Regions from separate parts of the Homo sapiens genome. Here all the other regions are linked to region 1. Evidence: fine-mapped expression QTL. A gene starts in region 1. Each other region holds a variant in brackets. All regions are shown on one strand. Distances are between the middles of the regions. Region 1 holds the start of ZNF232 (zinc finger protein 232). Region 2 has its middle 15 kb from the start of ZFP3-DT. Region 3 overlaps ZFP3 (ZFP3 zinc finger protein).

Region 1 (6,517 bases):
GGAATCTTGCAAGGGCCCCCTGTAACATAAGAAGAAATCATTCCTCTTTTTTTTTTTTAAGACAGAGTCTTTCTCTGTTACCCAGGCTGGAGTGCAGTGACATGATCTCAGCTCACTGCAACCTCCACCCCCGGGGTTCTAGCGATTCTCCTACCTCAGCCTCCCAAGTAGCTGGGATTACAGGCGCCTGCCACCACATCCAGCTAATTTTTTTGTATTTTTAGTAGGGACGGGGTTTTGCCATATTGGCCAGGCTGGTCTTGAACTCCTGACCTCAGGTGACCCACCCACCTCGGCCTCCCAAAGTGGTAGGATTACAGGCATGAGCCACCGCGCCCGTCCTCCTCTTCTTTTTTCATTCATTAAACATATACATATACTCAACACTCCAAAGAGCCAAACCCTGTCCTATGCCCTGTAGTCCCGCTTTTTCTTCCACCCCTCCCCAGAATTCTGCTGCACTAAGTCAATGTTTTTGAGAAACTTGCACCGTGGTAGAAACGGGGATGTAAAGTGGTTTTCTATAATACAACTAATTAAATGCCATTGACAGGAAAAATGTATCAAGAAAAAAAAAGTTCTGGGGGCCTATGGGAAGAAATGACTATTGGAAGAAATAAGTTTGAAGCAAAACCCAAGTTTCCAGATGCAGAGCCCAGAGCCGAGCAGCTTTCAGTGCAAGGTGGAATGTGTTGGGGAGGCAGCCTCCTCTGAGATGGCTCCTCCCTGCTTTCAAAAATTTCTGAAGTAGTAGCTACAGCAAAAGAAAAATATAAGTCCCCTTTAAGGAGCTGGATCTCATTCAAATGCCAAAGCCCTATTAAGGGGCAGCTATGAACAAGTCTCGGGTACAGTGGCCTGCGTCAAGGAAATCTAACAGGTGTAAACCAAAAAAGCATCTGAGATAGGTCTCAACCAATTTAGGGGTTATTTTGCTAAGGTTGAGGATGCACCCAGGAAAAAGACACACAAGCCACAGTAGGATCCGTGGCTCGCACTTTTACCAAAGAGGGTTTTGAGGGCTTCAATTTAATGGGGAGAAAGCTGGCAGGAGGGGAAGGAGGAGAGAAGAGGGAGGGTATGTGGTGAGGTAAGTGGCCACATTCTTGTGAGGATTTGATTAGAGCTCACTGAATCCACATGTTGCACGTGAAAAGAGGAAGTCAATTATGAATTTGTCTCGTGCTCAGTAAATCTGCATTTTACACAAGATAAGGTAGACATACAGTAGAGGAAGAAGTCAAATATGCTTTGTCTCTGGGTGGGTGGAGGAACGATTTCTAGTCTTGTCCGGTGAAGCTCGGCTGTTCGTTTCCATTGCCAGGGTGAGGGAGGCCACCTGGGGGCATATGTTGCTTTCTATCTTGCAGCTATCGGTTTAGGAACAAAAGGAAAAGCAGTTTTTTTCCGTGACTCAGTTTCCAAGCTTAACTTTTCCCTTTGTCATAGTAAGTTTGGGGTCCTGAGATTTTATTTTCCTTTCACACAGGGAAGGAGGTGGAACGCATCAGAGGCCACGAAAGGAGCACAAAGGGGGACCGCTGGCCTAAGACAAAGGAGGCGCGAGGAAAAACGCGGAGCTCGCGTCTCCCAGGGTGATGCCCGGCGCCGCTGGCCCCAGCAAAACTTCTCTACCCCGGCCTCGGGCAGGTGCCCGCCCGGGGAGGGGGCTGTCGTCCAGGCCAGGTACAACTCCCCTTCCCACCCTTCACTCCCTACCCAAGGGTCTCGAGAAAAGAGAAGAGGAACATCAAGACCCCCCTCCACGGCACGTGACGCGACGCAACGCAGGTAGCGCAGCGCGGGCACCACGGGCAACCCAAACCCCTCTCCACACACAACCGCGGAGCTGCCTGCCAGGCCTGCTCACTGCAGAGCCGCCGCTGCCTGCGGGACGGGCAAAAGCCAAGCCGCCAGGTGGACCTCGGGGAAGCCGCCGCCAACACTCACCTCACAGGACCAGGAGGTTCCATCGGGGCGCTGCCGCGAATCGCGCCACTTACAGCCCTCACCCCAGGGGCAGGTTTGCGCCTGCGCAGGTCGCAGCCTCGGCCTCCAACTCCCAGAATCCTCCTCGCCGCCGGCTTCCGTTCGCGGACTTTGGCCCAGGCGCGTGGGCGCTGCCGAGAGGCTGGGAGCCCGGGAACCGGTTCCTGGACTTGAGCGGAGCGAGAAAGAGCGCGCCGCCTGCACGACTGGACTGGAGCGGCCGGGTGCCCTGGAGGCCCCTGGGAATTGCAGTCCTTGCGCAGGTGGAGAGTGAGCCCTTGTAAGCGGGTGACTTCATCAAGTTTGGGGGGTCTCTTGTGGAATTGTACCTGAAGGGCGGTGCTGGCGGACAGATGTCAGGGAAATTCTGGCCTTGTCCATGGCCTGTGGTAACACTTCTCCATGAGTTCTATTTTCCAATTACCTCTTCCCAGACCTGATGAGAGGGCCACAGCTAAGGAAGACGGTCCCTTCCACGAAAAAATATTCCCCAACCACTAGCCTGTACAATTCCTGGGGCGTAGGGGGAGGGGAGGAGAAAAAAGAATTCTAAGGTTAATTTTATTGCGATGGGGGAAATAGGGGTTGGTGTTTTTTTGTTGTTGTTATTTTTTATTTTATTTATTTATTTGAGACGGAGTCTTGCTCTGTCGCCCAGGCTGGAGTGCAGTGGCGCGATCTTGGCTCACTGCAAGCTCCGCCTCCCGGGTTCACGCCATTCTCCTGCCTCAGCCTCCTGAGTAGCTGGGACTAGAGGCGCCCGCCACCACGCCCGGCTAATTTTTTTTTTTTGGTAGGAGACACGGCGTTTCACCATATTAGCCAGGATGGTCTCGATCTCCTGACCTCGTGATCCGCCCGTCTCGGCCTCCCAAAGTGCTGGGTTTACAGGCGCCCGGCCGATTATTTTTTATTTTTTTTTTGAGACATGGTGGCCAACATGGTGAAACCCTGTCTCTATTAAAAATACAAAAAGGTTAGCTGGGCGTGGTGGCGGGCGCCTGTAGTCCCCACTACTCAGGAGGCAGGAGAATCGTTTGAACCCGGGAGGCAGAGGTTGCAATAAGCTGAGATTGTGCCACTGCACTCTAGCCTGGGCGACAGAGTGAGACTCCGTCTCAAAAAAAAAATTAATTAAAAATAAATTTATCTCACTATCAATTTTGCAGGATATTGATTGATCCAGTCTCTCAATACTTTTATAAAATAGCTTAATCCTAGTCTCTCCAAGAAAAATTGTTGTTCAACTGTGTAGTACCATAGTAACAGTTCTCAGATTCTCAGATTATTAAATTTGTTTCTCCAAGATATAGTATCCTTGAAAATGCGCATTGACACCCCCATGGCTGGGGGATATATTATCTTTTTTCCTTCAAAGTGCCATTGATAATTACTGCACGTAGGAGCTATGGATAAAAATAGTTATCATTTGTTGAATGTCTACTACGTGTCTAGAACTATGCCAGGAACTTAATGAAATTGTCTTATTTAGTCTTCACAGTTGCTCCACAAGGGATTGTATTAATGTCATTATCTTGATTTTACAGATGAGAAAACTCAAGACTCAGAAACAATAAAGGTTACAGAGATGAAATTGACAGAGCCTGAATTTCAGTATGTCAAACTTCAATGTGCCATTATACTTTTAAATCCTACAGAACAGATTGAATCACAACTTCTACTTTTACATGAGAGAAGACAATGGGTCCTATGACTTACTGTCAGTTTCCTTTTCCTGATTTAATTAGCTGCTTCTGTATCTAATTTTGCTAGGAATGGAGGAATAAGGCAAATTCCCTAAACTACATATTGACATTTATACTAATGTGAAAACCTCAAGTCCATTTGCAGACTTTTGGATTAGATTCTGTCCCAGAAAGACATCCACCCTAGAGTTCAGGATATCATACCCATTTTACTGTTCCCCTGGCACAATTCATAGTAAGGAAAAACAGACAAGGGGAAAGCTATTAGATTCTCGGTGCTGCTAAACAGGACACACAAGGACACCATTTTGTGATGATGATGGTGCTTTATGCAGCTTCCACCATTTACAAGATTTTCCTGTGGTGTGGAACCTCTCATGATAAAGCAAAGGAACTAGAAGCTTATTCCAGTCAAGATTTCTGATTTATCTTGTGGTAAGCATTTGGGAAGGACATATCTGCACATGACCTGAGACTAAGTACTATACACTGAATCAGATGAAAATTGCTCTTAGGAAGCTTACAATTTTCCAAATAGTTAGGACAAAAACAAACTCTCCTTCTCTCTTCCTATATGTACATACTGACATCTTTATCATTACTGTCTTCCTAGGGTTATGATTCTGTATGGTTTCTTTGGTGCTGCATTAGACCTGAGCTCTGATTGAAAATTCTTCCACGCTCGCTACATTCCAAAACTTTATCTCCAATATGAATTTCCAGATGCCTCACAAGGTCTGAGCTCCATCTGAAGGCTTTCCCATGCTTGTCACATTCATAGGGCTTTTCTCCACTATGAATTCTATGATGTCGAATAAAGTGTGAGCTCTGATTACAAGTCTTTGAACATTCATTGCATTCACAAAGTTTCTTTCCACTGTGAATTCTTTGATGCTGAATAAGTTGTGAGCTCCCCTTCAAATCTTTCCCACACCCAATGCATTTATAAGGCCTCTCTCTCACCTTGTATGGATTCTCTGATGTTCTGTAAGGACTGAGTTCTGGCCAGGCGCAGTGGCTCACGCCTGTAATCCCAGCACTTTGGGAAACCGAGGCGGGTGGATCAGCTGGGCTCAGGAGTTCGAGACCAGCCTGGCCAGCATGGTGAAAGCCCCTCTCTACTAAAAATACAAAAATTAGCCGGGTGTGGTGGTGGGTGCCTGTAATCCCAGCTAATTGGGAGGCTGGGGCTGGAGAATTACTTGAACCTGGGAGGTGGAGGTTGCAGTGAGCCGAGATCGGGCCACTGCACTCCAGCCTGGCAGCAGTGTGAGACTCCGTCCCAAAAAATAACAAACAAACAAAAAAGACACCAGAGGGCTTTGGGTCCCTCTCTCTCTGCCATGTGAGGACCCTGTGAGAAGGCAGCCAGGGAGCTCTCACCAGAACCTGACCATGTTGGGCCCTGGTCACAGCCTTGCAGCCTCCAAAACTGAGAAAATAAATTTCTGTTGTCTGGCATCCAGTCTATGGTATTTTGTTACGGCAGCCCGAGCTAAGACAGAGGAAAACTGGGGGCTGATGTGACGGCGGGGACTTTAGGTAGAAGGACCCCACGTCAAAAGTCAAAGCTAAAAATTCTGGAACGAGCCAGGAAGGCATCAGGACGTCTCATTTTATTTGCTAGAGGCATCTTTTGGGGGGTGGGGCGGTGGGTGGGTGGAAGGAGATGTGGCCAGTGAGCCTCTGACTTTTAATTGAGTTATTTCGAAACAAGGAACAGAGGGCCGGATGTGGTGGGTCGTGCCTGTAATTCCAGCACTTTGCGAGGCCGAGGCCAGTGGATCACCTGAGGTCAGGAGTTCAAGACCAGCCTGGCCAACATGGTGAAACCCTCTCTCTACTAAAAATACAAAATTAGCCTGGCGTGGTGGGGGGCGCCTGTAATCCCAGCTACTCGGGAGGCTGAGGCGGGACAACAGCTTTAACCCGGGAGGCGGAGGTTACAGTGAGCCGAGATGGCGCCACTGCACTCCGGCTTGGGCAACAGAGCAAGACTCCGTCTCCAAAAACACACACACACACACACACAAAACCCAAAACGGAACAGAGGCAGTTCTGTATTCCAGAGGGATTGATTTGTGATGCCTGCTCAAAACTCAAGAAGCCACCACCCTGATACTCATCAAACCCCGGAGAAATTTCGTTTTTAGAGTGTCAGAAGGCCCCATGAATAACCTTCCAGTCACTGAGGGAGGTCCCTACTCAGCACGCCCCGGTCTCCTTCACTCTCCTGCACTCGTGCCTCACAGATGGCCTCATGCGCGGACTGGCGGTCCAGCCTCCCGGGGACACAGCCCGGGCGCACCCCGCGCCGCCTTTGGCCACTGAGGCGGTCCTCGAGGCGCCGGGCTAGGGAAAGCCTCCCCGGCCGTCAAGGCTGGGATAGCGCCGGGGGATCGGGGCGGGGTGCGTGCGCCGAAAGGGCCTCAAAGCTGTAGGGCTGGACGGCACAAAGGGGCGCAAGGCACGGAGGCCAGGCAGAGGGGACAGCTAGCGGCGCGGCGGGACGGGCGGGCCCCGACGCCCAGCTCCAAATGCGTGGCCGCTGTGGGAGCTCGTCTCCAGGCGCCCATCAGTCTTCCCCTCACTCGACGCTACCTTGGCGGCCGCGCCCATGCTGTCCCCGCTCCAACTAGCAGTCAGGAGGGGCCGCGGGCAGCGCTCGAGACGCTCATTGAGAGGACTTCCCGCCTGCGGGCTCTCTGCTCGACGCCACTCCCGGCCCCGCTCCGGGCGGCCCCCCTCACCACTCCCGGCCCCGCTCCCGGCGGCCCGCCTCACCACTCCCGGCTTCCCGGGGCTTAGGCCCGCACCATCGA
Region 2 (6,517 bases), 50 kb before region 1:
TTAACACCATATGTATTAGTTTGCTCAGGCTGCCATGATGAAATACCATGTCATCATTTTTCCTCTGTCTCAAGGACACAGGCACCCATGTCTGGGTGGCTTAAACCAGACATTTATTTTCTCACAGCTGTGGAGGGTAGACGTCCAGTATCAAGGTTCCACCCAATTTGGTTTCTGGGGAAGGCTCTCTGCTTGGCTTGCAGATGGCTGTCTTCTCGCTATGTCCTCACGTGGCCTTTCCTCTGTGCAAGTGTGCAGGTTATGGGGAGGTGGTGGTGGGGCAGTTAGGGGAGTGCTGGGGAGAGGGAGGGAGAAAGGGAGAGGATGAGAGAGCTCTCTGGTGTCTCTTCTTTCTCCTTCTTCCTTTCTCCCTCCTCCCTCCTCCCCCCTCCTCCTCCTCCTCCTTCTCCTCCTTCCTCTACTTCTCCATCTCCATCTCCTTCTCCTTCTTTCTTCTTTCTTCTTCTCCTTCTCCTTCTTCTTCATCTCTTTTTTTGAGACAGGGTCTCACCCTGTCGCCCACGCTGCAGTGCAGTAGCCCAGCGATCATGGTTCACTGTAGCCTCAGTCTCCTTGGCTCCAGTGATCATGGTTCACTGTAGCCTCGGTCTCCTTGGCTCAAGGGATCCTCCCACCTCAGCCTTCTGAGTAGCTGGGACCACAATCATGCACCACCATGCCCAGCTAATTTTTAAATTTTTTGTAGAGATGGCATCTCACTATGTTGCCCAGGCTGGTCTGAAACTCCATGGTTCAAGCCATCCTCCTGTCTTGACCTCTCAAAGTGTTGGGATTACAGGTCTGAGCCACTGCTTCTGGCCAGGGCCTCAAATTTATGACTTCATTGAACCTTAATTACTTCCAATTAATTATTCCAAATATAGCCATGCCATGAGTTGGGTCTTTAACGTATGAATTTTTTGGGAACACATATATTCAGTCCATAACGCTATACTCTAATCAGAGAATTCATATTATGGAAGAATCCTATGAACAGAGTAGATGTGAGAGCACTTTTTTTTTTCTTTTGAGATGGAGTCTTGCTCTGTCACCTAGGCTGGAGTGCAGTGGTGCGATCTCTGCTCACTGCAATCTCTGCCTCCCGGGTTCAAGTGATTCTCCTGCCTCAGCCTTCTGAGTAGCTGGGACTACAGGCATCCACCACCATGCTCACTGATTTTTGTATTTTTAGTAGAGATGGGGTTTTACCATATTGGCCAGGCTGTTCTCAAACTCTTGACCTTGTGATCCACCCACCTTGGCCTCCGAAAGTGCTGGGATTACAGGTGTGAGCCACCGCGCCCAGCAGTGAGAGCACTTTCAAAGGGAAGTTAGAGCTCATTAGATATTGTTGAATTCATAGTAGAAAGACTTATGAATGTAATAAATGTGGGAACATTTTTTTGAGACAGAGTCTTGCTCTGTTGCCTAGGCTGGAGTAAAGTCGCATGATCATGGCTCACTGTAGCCTCGACCCCTCAGGCTCAAGCGATCCTCCCACCTCAGCCTCCCGAGTAGCTGGGACTACAGGTGCGTGCCACCATGCCTGGCTAATTGTTTTAGTTTTTGTAGAGACAGGGTCTCCCTATGTGGTCCAGGCTGGTTTGGAAATTCTGGGCTCAAGTCATCCTCCTGCCTCGGCCTCCCAAAGTACTGGGATTACAGGAAAGAACCACCACCCCTGGCTGGAAAATATTTCAGGTGGTGATCTCAACTTGTTCAACATCAGATAATTCATTTGGGGGGAAAACCCTGTAAGGGCGTCGAGTGTGGAAGAGCCTTCAGCTAGAGCTTAGGTCTTACTGAACATCACACAATTCACATTGGAAAAAAACCCTGTGAAAGTAAGGAGTGTCGGCCAGATGCAGTGGCTCACGCCTGTAATCCCAGCACTTTGGGAAAGCCCAGATGGGCGGATCACCCGAGGTCAGGGGTTTGAGACCAGCCTGGCCAACATGGTGAATCTCCATCTCTACTAAAAATAGAAAAAAATGGCCTGGCGCAGTGGCTCACGCCTGTAATCCCAGCACTTTGGTAGGCCGAGGCAGGCAGATCACGAAGTCAGGAGATCGAGACCATCCTGGCTAACCCGTCTCTATTAAAAATACAAAAAAGTAGCTAGGCGTGGTGGTGGGTGCCTGTAGTCCTAGCTACTCGGGAGGCTGAGGCAGAGAATGGCGTGAACCCGGAGGCGGAGCTTGCAGTGAGCTGAGATCATGCCACTGCACTCCAGCCTGGGCAACAGTGCGAGACTCTGTCTCAAACAAACAAACAAAAAATATATATATATACAAAAAAAAATTAGCGAGGCGTGGTGGTGCGTGCCTGTAATCCCAGCTACTCGGGAGGCTGAGGCAGGAGAGCTCCTTGAGCCCGGGAGGTGGAGGTTGCAGTGAGCCGAGATTGCGCCATTGCACTCCAGCCTGGGCAACAAGAGCGAAACTCTGTCTCAAGGAAAAAAAAAAAAAAAAAAAGTAAGGAGTGCAGGTAAATATTTAGCTATAATTTAGCCTTACTAGAGACTTCATGTTAGAAGAGAAATCCTTTGAATGTAAAGACTGCAGGAAAGCCTTTCCTCAGAATCCTCATCTTATTCTACATCACCGAATTTGCTCAGGAGAGAAATCCCATAATTTATTGAATGTGGTCAGCCTTTAATCAGAGCTCAAATCTTCGTCCACATCAAAGAATTACCTCTGGGGAGAAAACCTGTGAGTGACATAAATATTGGAAGTCCTGCAATTATAGTTCATGCCTTACTCTACCCCAGATAATTCATATCAGAGAGAAACTGTTTGAATGTAACAGATGGGTAAATGCTGTCTGGCCTAGGTCAATCTTTATGACAATATCAAATAATTCGTCTCAGGGAATAATCCTATGACTGCAATGAAAGAGAATATCTTCGGCCAGTCTAAGAAAACACCACAAACATAAGAGTATGCATGTTTATACATATCTCTTGATATCAAAATAATTAGAAAAAATCTAGAGGAGGTGGATTAGTCCACATACTGAATTTCATGGGTTAACTGAAATTTAGACAAATGATTGAAGACTCTCTGTCTAGACAAAGTGGCAGCTGCATCAGGGAGACCTGGGACTCAACTGTCCTTCCTCATCCACTTTCCCGGCCACAGTTGAAATTCTTGTCTGTAGGTTGCTG[GC/G]GCCACCTGATGCCCAGCAAGAAAACTGCCTCTTTATTCCCGAGTAGGGAAGAAGACGCCTAAATCTGTAAACATATCTCCTTCTCTTTTTTTTTTTTTGAGACAGAGTCTCGCTCTGTTGCCCAGGCTGGAGTGTAATGGCGCAATCTCGGCTCTATGCAACCTCCACCTCCCGGGTTCAAGCGATTCTCGTGCCTCAGCCTCTTGAGTAGCTGGGACTACAGGTATGCACCACCATGCCCAGCTAATTTTTGTATTTTTAGTAGAGACAAGGTTTCACCATATTGGTCAGGCGGGTCTTGAACTCCTGACCTCGTGATCCACCTGACTTGGCCTCCCTAAGTGCTGGGATTATAGGCGTGAGCCACTGTGCCTGGCCTTCTTTTCTTTTTCAGACAGAGTCTTGCTATGTCGCCCAGGCTGGCGTGCAGTGGCGCGATCTCGACTCACTGCAACCTCTGCCTCCCGGGTTCAAGCAATTCTCATGCCTCAGCCTCCCGAGTACCTGGGACGACAGGCGTGCACCACCACGCCAGGCTAATTTTTTGTATTTTTAGTAGAGACGGGGTTTCGCCATGTTGGCCAGATGGGTCTCCAACTCCTGACCTCAGGTGATCCGCCCACCTGAGCTTCCCGAAGTCCTGGGATTACAGGCCTGAGCCACCACGCCCAGCCTCTTGTTCTCTTTCAACATTCAGTTTACTTAATTGTGCTTCCTCACGCAAAGGATAACCTTCCTCACACAAACACCCTTTCCTGCTCCCCTTTTCTTCCAACTGTTGCCTGCTGCCTCAGGAAAATCTCTCTGTCTCCTTCTTCATGGCAGGAGTAGCTGAGTGGGAACTGCCATTGTATAGTACCTGCGACAGCCTGGCAGGTGTGAAGTGCTTTGTCTGCAGTATCTCATTTAATTCTCACATGAACCCTGTGTGCTAATAGTACTCCCATTTTATAGGAGAGGAACCTAAACTCAGAGCTCAGGGCACTTTCCTAGGTACATGGGAAATAGCAGAAGCCCAAGGGGAGTGTGGGATTGTCTTCAAAGCTCATGCTTTATGAGTGGTTCTTAACCCCGGAGGGCTCATTTTTTTTTTTTTTTTTTTTTTTTTTGAGATGGAGTCTGACTGTGTCGCCCAGGCTGGACTACAGTGGCACCATCTCAGCTCACTGTAACTTCCTCCTCCCAGGTTCAAGCGATTCTCCTGCCTCAGCCTCCCGAGTAGCTGGGACTACAGGTGCCTGCCACCACGCCTGGCTAATTTTTGTATTTTTAGTAGAGACTGGGTTTTGCCATGTTGGCCAGGCTGGTCTCAAAACTCCTGACCTGAAGTGATCCTCTTGCCTTAGCCTCCCAAAGTGCTGGGATTACAGGCATGAGCCATCATGCTTGGCCAAGCCTGGAGAACTCTTTTAAAAGTACCAATGCTGGCTGGGCACGGTGGCTAATGCCTGTAATCCCAGCACTTTGGGAGGTCGAGGTGGGCAGATTGCTTGAGCCCAGGAGTTCCAGACCAGTTTGGGCAGCATAGTGAGACCCCTGTCTCTACAAAAAATTTAAAAAAAAATTAGCTGAGCATGGTGGTGCATGCCTGTGGTCCTAGCTACTCAGGTAGCTGAGATGGGAGGCAGTGAGCTGTGATCATGCCACTGCATTCCAGCCTGGGCAACACTGTGAAACCGTGTCTCAAAAAAAAAAAAAAAAAGAAAGAAAAGAAAAGAAAAAAGAAAAGGTACCAATGCTTGCCCTCCTTCTCCAAATTTTTTTTTTTTTTTGACAGAGTCTCACACTGTCGCCCTGTCGCCAGGCTGGAGTGAGTGGCGCAATCTCGGCTCACTGCAACCTCCGCCTCCTGGGTTCAAGTGTTTCTCCTACCTCAGCCTCCTGAGTAGCTGGGACTACAGTTGCATACCACCACCTTGGCCTCCCAAAGTGCTGGGATTACAGGCGTGAGCCACCGCTCCCAGCCTCCTCCTCCAAATTTTAATTGATCTGGGGTGAGGCATGGTGTTACAGACTGAACTGCATTCCCCCAAAATTTATATGTCGAAGCCTTAATCCCAAATGTGACTGTATTTAGAGATAAGGCCTTTAAGGAGGTAATTGAGATTAAATAAGCCTGACCAACATGGAGAAACCTCATCTCTACTAAAAATACAAAAATTAGCCAGGCGTGGTGGTGCACACCTGTAATCCCAGCTACTCGGGAGGCTGAGGCAGGAGAATCGCTTGAACCCAGGAGGCAGAGGTTGCAGTGAGCCGAGATTGTGACACTGCACTCCAGCCTGGGCAACAAGAGTGAAACTCCATCTCAAAAGAAAAAAAATAAATAAATAATAAAAATAAAATAAAAAGAATTCATGTGTTAGATGATTTTAGGGCAGTTGGCCAGTCACACAAGCTGAAGGCTGGGCTGAAACAAAATAATATGTGAATGTTGGGTGCAATTGTTTTGAGTAGAGACTAAAGGGGCAGAACTGTTCTTTGTTCTCTGAGAAGGCTGAAATGTCCACTGCATTGCATAATTTAACACCTAGTCCTTGTCAAGAGAAGGGAATTCCCTTGATTTTGAAAAGTCCTAATACAATCATTTATATCCGTCTCCGCACAGCCCAGCCCCTCTGGGTTCAGCCCGTCTCCTGTCATTCTTACAACCCACATCCCATATTAAGCAGTGATTATTAGGATGATGGGAGATGTCACCTGCTTACCCAGTTTGGACATGTTTGTCCATCTCTGCTGGTAATGCTGCTTTTACCCTTGTGGGATCTGGTGACTTTCAACAATTGCCCATTAGTGCTGGAAATGGGCCCAGATTCTTCCAACATTTTGGCACCAAAGACACTGCCAAGAACAATCTCAACTTCCTTGGGTCCAGCACTGTTAGGTCAAATTACATGCTCAATCACAAGTGGAGAAGAGTCTAGTTTTGAGCATCGGTTGAGTACAACTTTACAAAATTGCTGATTCAGGGGTGGCCCTATGGAAAAATAAGGAAATGCCAAATAGAGTTTAAAAGGTATGTCTAATGAGACAAGAAAGATGAGGAGAAGCAGAAACCCAGATGGATTTGAAATATCTGCAGGCTTGTCATGGTGACTCCTGCCTGTAATCTTGGAATTTTGGGAGGCAGAGGCAGGAGGATTGCTTGAGCCCAGGAGTTTGAGATCAGTTTGGGCAACACAGGGAGACTCCACCTCTACAAAAAATGCAAAAAATTAGCGGAGCATTGTGGCACACACCTATAGCTCCAGCTACTCAGGAGGCTGAAGCGGGAGGATCACTTGAGCCTGGGAGTTGGAGGCTGCAGTGAGCCCACATCACAGCACTGTACTGCAGCCTGGGCAACAGT
Region 3 (6,517 bases), 26 kb before region 1:
CCATTGTTTAAGAGACATTCATCTAACAAGATCTTCCTGCCATGATTTCAGGGCTCCTAAGCAATTTTCAGGGTTTTATGTGGCTTTCCATGCAGATTTTCTTTTCTTTTCTTTTCTTTTCTTTTCTTTTTTTTGAGATGGAGTCTGGCTCTGTCGCCCAGGCTGGAGTGCAATGGTGCGATCTCAGCTCACTGCAACCTCCACCTCCCAGGTTCAACTGATTCTCCTGCCTCAGCCTCCCGAGTAGCTGGGATTATAAGCACCCACCATCATGCCCAGCCAATTTTTGTATTTTTGTAGAGATGAGGTTTCACCATGTTGGCCAGGCTGGTCTTGAACTCCTGACCTCAGGTGATCTGCCTGCCTCGGCCTCCCAAAGTGCTGGGATTACAGGCATGAGCTACTGTGCCTGGCTCATGTAGATTTTCATCTAGGTAATATGGTCCTTTATAAATTTTATTTCTTGTTGTTAATTAATAGATATCTGGTTTATACATCAGTACGTTGTGAATGAGGCTTTTTTTTTTTTTTTTTTTTTTTTTTGAGACGGAGTCTCGCTCTGTCGCCCAGGCTGGAGTGCAGTGGCGGGATCTCGGCTCACTGCAAGCTCCGCCTCTCGGGTTCACGCCATTCTCCTGCCTCAGCCTCCCAAGTAGCTGGGACTACAGGCGCCCGCCACTACGCCCGGCTAATTTTTTGTATTTTTAGTAGAGACGGGGTTTCACCGTGTTAGCCAGGATGGTCTCGATCTCCTGACCTCGTGATCCGCCCGCCTCGGCCTCCCAAAGTGCTGGGATTACAGGCGTGAGCCACCGCGCCCGGCCTGAATGAGGCTTTTTGAGCTTGCTTTCCTTGGGTGCATTGAAAAGACAAATTTAGGTCTGCCAAGTTGAGGGTCCTATTCTGAGCTGTGGAAACCCAATAGAGGTCTGCCTGTCATGCCCAAACTGAGGACCAGTGGTCAACCTCTACTCTTCCAGTAGCACCTCCATCTTATCTCTCTTCAGAAACATTTAATTTCAGATTTAGGAAAGTGAGGAAGTGAGAAACGGAAAGATAGAAAATTGTATTTGGGAATTTGAATTTAGGCTATGAGAAGTGGTGTTTCCATATGAGTCTGAGGCCTAATATATGGCTGTGCCTCTGGAAGAATCAACCAAATGGAGATTGGCTTTGATTTGTATTTGAGAAGATACCCATAGAGCAGTATTTGACAAATGACATACTGTGTTGCTGGCAGAATGCAAAGTAAAAGAATGATCAGAGTGGGTAAGATTTAGTGGGGGAAGGCTTTCTGTGTTTTTTTTGAGATGGAATCTTACTCTGTTGCACAGGCTGGAGTGCAGTGGAGTGATCTTGGCTCACTACAACTTGTGCCTCCTGGGCTCAAGCGATTCTCCTGCCTCAGCCTCCCCAGTAACTGGGACTACAGGTGCACACCACCATGCCTGGCTAATTTTTTGTGTGTTTTTTTTAGTAGAGACAGGGTTTCACCATGTTGTCCAGGCTGGTCTCGAACTCCTGACCTCAGGTGGTTCTGCCTGCCTCAGCCTCTCAAAGTGCTGGGATTACAGGCATGAGCCACCGTGCCTGGCCAGGGGAGACTTTCTGAATTTGAGTTTTGTTTTTTTTTTTTGAGACGGAGCCTTGCTCTGTCGCCCAGGCTGGAGTGCAGTGGCGCAATCTTGGTTCACTGCAAGCCCCGCCTCCTGGGTTCACGCCACTCGCCTGCATCAGCCTCCTGAGTAGCTGGGACTACAAGCGCCCGCCACCACGCCCAGCTAATTTTTTGTATTTTTAGTAGAGATGGAGTTTCACTGTGTTAGCCAGGATGGTCTTGATCTCCTGACCTCGTGATCTGCCCACCTCGGCCTTCCAAAGTGCTGGGATTATAGGTGTGAGCCACCACACCCGGCCCTGAATTTGAGTTTTAAACTAGGTCCTGGTTACTTGACTGGGGATAAATACATACCTAACTTCTGTCGTATCTTGTTTTGCTAAGAAAAAGTGATTTTCCATTTATCGTGGTACACGTGTCAGCTCTACGAATGCTGATTTTGTAAAGAACTAGATGATGGAAAATAAGCAAGTATAGGAGGCATGAGGATGAAAAGGAAAGGCCAGAGAGGGGGTTGGAAGCAGATGGAGACTGAAATGGCAGCTTGTGGAACTTGCTCTTGGGTAGGGATGAGAGAGAAATGTATTTAAGACAGTACTTCCCAACTCAGATGGTACCATGGAGGAAGAAGATAGCTAAATTCTCGACAATGGATTCTTACAATTGTATAGATACACATTACCTATAATTTTCAAAGATTTCAACAAAAAGGAGAAGTACAGTTTTTAGGTGCCCTCTCTTACTTCATGGGAAAATGAGAGAAGATGCTGAGATGGGGAAGGTCAAAGAAAGTTCCACCTCATTTTCAGGTGTAGCACAAAGAGCTTCTAAGACTTCAGGATTCCAGTAGGAGATCAGGTTCCTTCCAGGTGTCTGGGGAGGGGGGCATTACCAGGCTGCCCTGATGAGTGACTAGAGGTGCCCGAGCCGGATGGTGTTAGTAACCAACATCCTGTGGATAACGGGAGGCTGGGCAGAGAGAAGGGGAGTCCAAAGTCGCCCCCAAATCTCCACCTTTCCCCTTCCCTTACCACATGACTCCAGCCTCCTCTGCTGCTCAGGGTCTTTGTTTCTTCAGTAATCTCATCCTTTCTTCACTCTTAACCCCTGTCTCTCTGCTGGACCTATTCCTTCTAATATAAACATGTTCATATCTCTTCCATCAGAGGAAAGCCTTGCTCTATAGCACTGTCCGTCTTGGTCTTCTCCTTTCATCCACTTTTTTTTTTTTTTTTAAAGAAGCAGCAAATTCATTATTCAGTCCACTACCAGCTGGCTTTTGCTACTGTCATTCCCCTGAATCTGTGCTCACAGTTCATATGTGACTATCTATTGTCTCAGTACACATTTTCTTTCTTTTTTTTTTTTTTTTTTTTTGAGACGGAGTCTCGCTCTGTCACCCAGGCTGGAGTGCAGAGGTGTGATCTTGGCTCACTGCAAGCTCCGCCTCCCGGGTTCAGGCCATTCTCCTGCCTCAGCTTCCCGAGTAGCTGGGACTACAGGCGCCCGCCACCACGCCTGGCTCCTTTTTTTGTACTTTTAGTAGAGACGGAGTTTCACCGTGTTAGCCAAGATGGTCTCGATCTCCTGACCTCATGATCTGCCTGCCTTGGCCTCCCAAAGTGCTGGGATAACAGGCGTGAGCCACTGTGCCCAGCCTCAGTAGACATTTTCTAATTCTTATCCTAGCGAATCTCAACTGCATTTG[A/AT]TTTTTTTTTTTTTTTTTTTTTGAGACAGAGTCTCACTCTGTTGCCCAGGCTGGAGTACAGTGGCTCAATCATAGGTTACCGCAGCCTCTACCTCACAGGCTCAAGTGATCCTCCCACCTCAGCTTCCCGAGTAGCTGGAACTACAGGCACATGCCACTATGCCTGGCTAAATTTTTAATTTGTAGAGATGGGGTCTTGCTATGTTTCCCAGGCTGGTCTCAAACTCCTGGGCTCAAGTGATCCTCCCACCTACTCCTCCCAAAGTGCTGGCATTAAAGGCGTGAGCCACCGTTCCTAGCCTTCACTCGATATTTTTAAATTCCCTCTGCCAATGCCTAAGTGACTTCTGTGACACATTATTCTGGTTTTTCAGTTTCCCTACCATTCTTTATCTTCTTGGCTCATTCTCTTCCTCTACTCACCCCTTTATGAACGGAGTCTGAACAGGAAACAGCTCACTCAAATTAGGATAATTTGAGGAGGGTTTATTTGCAGCGAGGTTAATTATAAATGATCTAGGTGTGGGCAGGTCATTGAAGAACCCAGGGCTGGCAATAATAGTCACTAGCCCTGGGCCTGAAGAGAGAGGAGGGAGTAGAGGTTACTGGAACCCAGACAGTGAGACTACTGAGTAGGATAGAGTTGAGAGGAGTAGGGACCTCAGTTGAGGGACAACACCAACCCAAGGCGACCTCACAGGAAGGAACCCTGACCCCTTTCTCCTGCCCTGCCCTTTCGTCCCTGCTTCCAGACCCCTGCTGGGGCTCCTCATTGGTGGACCACAGCTGGAAGCCAGAGGCTCTGTTGATGTGTTCCATACAGGTTAGGTTTCTGGGGCAAAGAGGGACAGGGAGAAAGGTGGAAAGAAGATCTAGAGGGAAAATGGAAGATAACTGGAGCACTCGTGACTGTTTCTTTGACTCCTAGGCTTCTGTTCGCAGCCTCTGATGGTTCTCATGCTACACTCAGGCTGAGTACTTTCAAGTCTGTATCTCTAGTCCTGACTACTTTGAGCTTTAGACCAATATATTTTGACTGATTCTTTGATACCTCTCTGTGGATACCTTGAAACTCATTTTGTCCAAAACAGAGCTCACTGATCATCTTTTATTGCTATATTAGCTCCTCTCCCAGTATTCAGAATATTGTGGCACCACCGTCCATCTAATTACCATCCCTCAAATTGAGTGAGATCTGGGCACCATCTTTGAGTCCTCCCTCCTTACACCTATCTCCAGTCACACACCAAGTCTTGCAGAATTTGACCTCTTCCGTATTTCCCCAGCCTGTCTCTTCCTCCCCACTGCTACTAGTGCTCTAGTGAGATCACATCACCTTTTGCCTTGATGACTGCAGCAGCCTCCCAGCTGATCTTCCTATGTGCAGGCCTACTGCTTTCTTTTTTTTTTTTTTTTTTTAGTAGAGATGGGGTTTCACCGTGTGAGCCAGGATGGTCTCAGTCTCCTGATCTCGTGATCCTCCCGCCTTGGCCTCCCAAAGTGCTGGGACTACAGGCGCCCGCCACCATGCCCGGCTAATTTTTTGTATTTTTAGTAGAGACGGGGTTTCACCGTGTTAGCCAAGATGGTCTCGATCTTCTGACCTCGTGATCCACCATCCTCGGCCTCCCAAAGTGCTGGAATTACAGGCGTGAGCCACCACGCCCGGCCAGGCCCACTGCTTTCTACTTCAGCCACTAAACGACCACGAGTGTGCATCTGCGTGGAATGCTAATCTGACTAGGGACCATGTCATTCCTTGGTTTAAAAAACCATCCCATAGTTCTGCAATGTCTAAAGGATGAAGTTCCATACATTCCCATGCCCCCTTGAGAATCACCTTCCACAGTGAACACTTTCACTGACGGGAGGATTGTATTCCTCAGATTTGCCGTAGTGCACAAATAGACTGCCCTAAGCAAAGGCCACTTTAATATTAGTTCCAGATTGCTTACCATCTGAACAAAGGTCAGGCTTATTCTCCTGGCATTTGGACCCCTTGTCTGTGGTGGGGACAGCCAAATCCCCAGGACAGTTTTATTAGGAATAGGTTTGGCCTCGTATAATAATAAAAAACCCCCAATATCTTAAGCAAGGCAAAAGCTTATTTCTCTCTTAGATAAATGAAGTCCAGAGGCTGGCATTCCAGGATTGGTATGGCAGTACCATGGAGTCATCAGGGTCCCAGGTTCCTTCCAGCTGTGATCCCCAGTCCTAGGCTATGCCAGTATACTCATGGTCCAGGATGGTGTCCAGCTATCACATCATGCTCTGGGAACAGCATGGAAGACAAGATGGAAGAAATGTATCTCCTCATCCTTTAGGAGATTTCCTAGTAGTCCCATGTGGTTTCATTTGCATCTCACTGTCTCATTGGCTAGAATATGATCATGTGGCCAATCCCAACTGCAAAAATTAAAAAGCTGGGGAATGTATTTTTTTAGCTAGGCTAATTGCCACACTATATAAATTTATTATTCTGTTATAAGGCAATGGGGAATAATATTGGGGTAGGCAACTAAACATTTTTGCCACAACTAAAAATCTTTGTAAAAGTTTTAAAAAGGTACTCTCCTCCCACCCACCCCTGCCCAAGAAACAAGGTGTCTTGCTCTATTACCCAGGCTGGAGTACAGTGGCACAATCACGGCTCATTGCAGCCTTGACCCCCTGGGCTCAAGTGACCCTCCTACCTCAGCCTCCCCAGTAGCTGAGACTACAGACACATGCCACTGCCCCTGGCCAATTTTTAAAAAATTTTAGTTGAGACAAGATCTCCCTATGTTACCTAGGCTGGTCTTGAACTCCTGAGCTCAAGCCATCTTCCCACCTCTGCCTCCCAAAGTACTGGAATTACAGGTGTGAGCCACCACACCCTGCCAAAAATGCACTCTTTAAGTAATCTATGAAGGTATTAAGAAAATACTATAAGAGAGCTGATTACAAAATTAATATGTAATGATCAACAGCATTGCTATATATATAAGTAATAGCCAGTTACAAAATGTAAGAAAATCTCACTAAATGAAAAGAGGTACAGAGACATGATGAACATAAAAACAACATCAGCATAAGTTTGGACTACAAATTTATACTAAAGTTTACTTGGGAAGATATGAGAATAGACAGGAAAGGTCTGAAAAAGAAAACTGAGATAACTTTCTCTAGCATATATTAAAAATGTTAATAAA

The links. PIP is the estimated chance that this variant, and not a neighbour inherited with it, causes the effect.
Region 2: its variant is the best candidate, but not a certain one, in a credible set for the expression of ZNF232 in whole blood (TOPMed, PIP 0.59).
Region 3: its variant is the best candidate, but not a certain one, in a credible set for the expression of ZNF232 in whole blood (INTERVAL, PIP 0.76).

Annotation. Positions count from the first base shown.
Region 1 is chr17:5,109,850-5,116,366 of GRCh38, forward strand. It overlaps ZNF232 (zinc finger protein 232), which reads right to left and starts at 2,029. Exons shown (of 4, transcript NM_014519.6): 1 at 1,951-2,029; 2 at 1-19. The coding sequence starts at 1,973. It overlaps ZNF232-AS1 (ZNF232 antisense RNA 1), which reads left to right and starts at 2,086. Exons shown (of 3, transcript NR_135658.1): 1 at 2,086-2,252; 2 at 3,537-3,603; 3 at 4,309-4,533. USP6 (ubiquitin specific peptidase 6) reads left to right here and starts at 6,183. Exons shown (of 38, transcript NM_001304284.2): 1 at 6,183-6,517. RefSeq lists an enhancer at 2,340-2,389.
Region 2 is chr17:5,059,418-5,065,934 of GRCh38, forward strand. It overlaps the pseudogene LOC100421332. Among named protein-coding and RNA genes, the nearest start is that of ZFP3-DT, 15 kb to the right of the region's middle. RefSeq lists an enhancer at 2,904-3,664. The variant GC/G (reference allele first, on the strand shown) is at 3,167.
Region 3 is chr17:5,083,751-5,090,267 of GRCh38, forward strand. The region is part of intron 1 of ZFP3 (ZFP3 zinc finger protein); the gene reads left to right. Among named protein-coding and RNA genes, the nearest start is that of ZFP3, 8.5 kb to the left of the region's middle. The variant A/AT (reference allele first, on the strand shown) is at 3,327.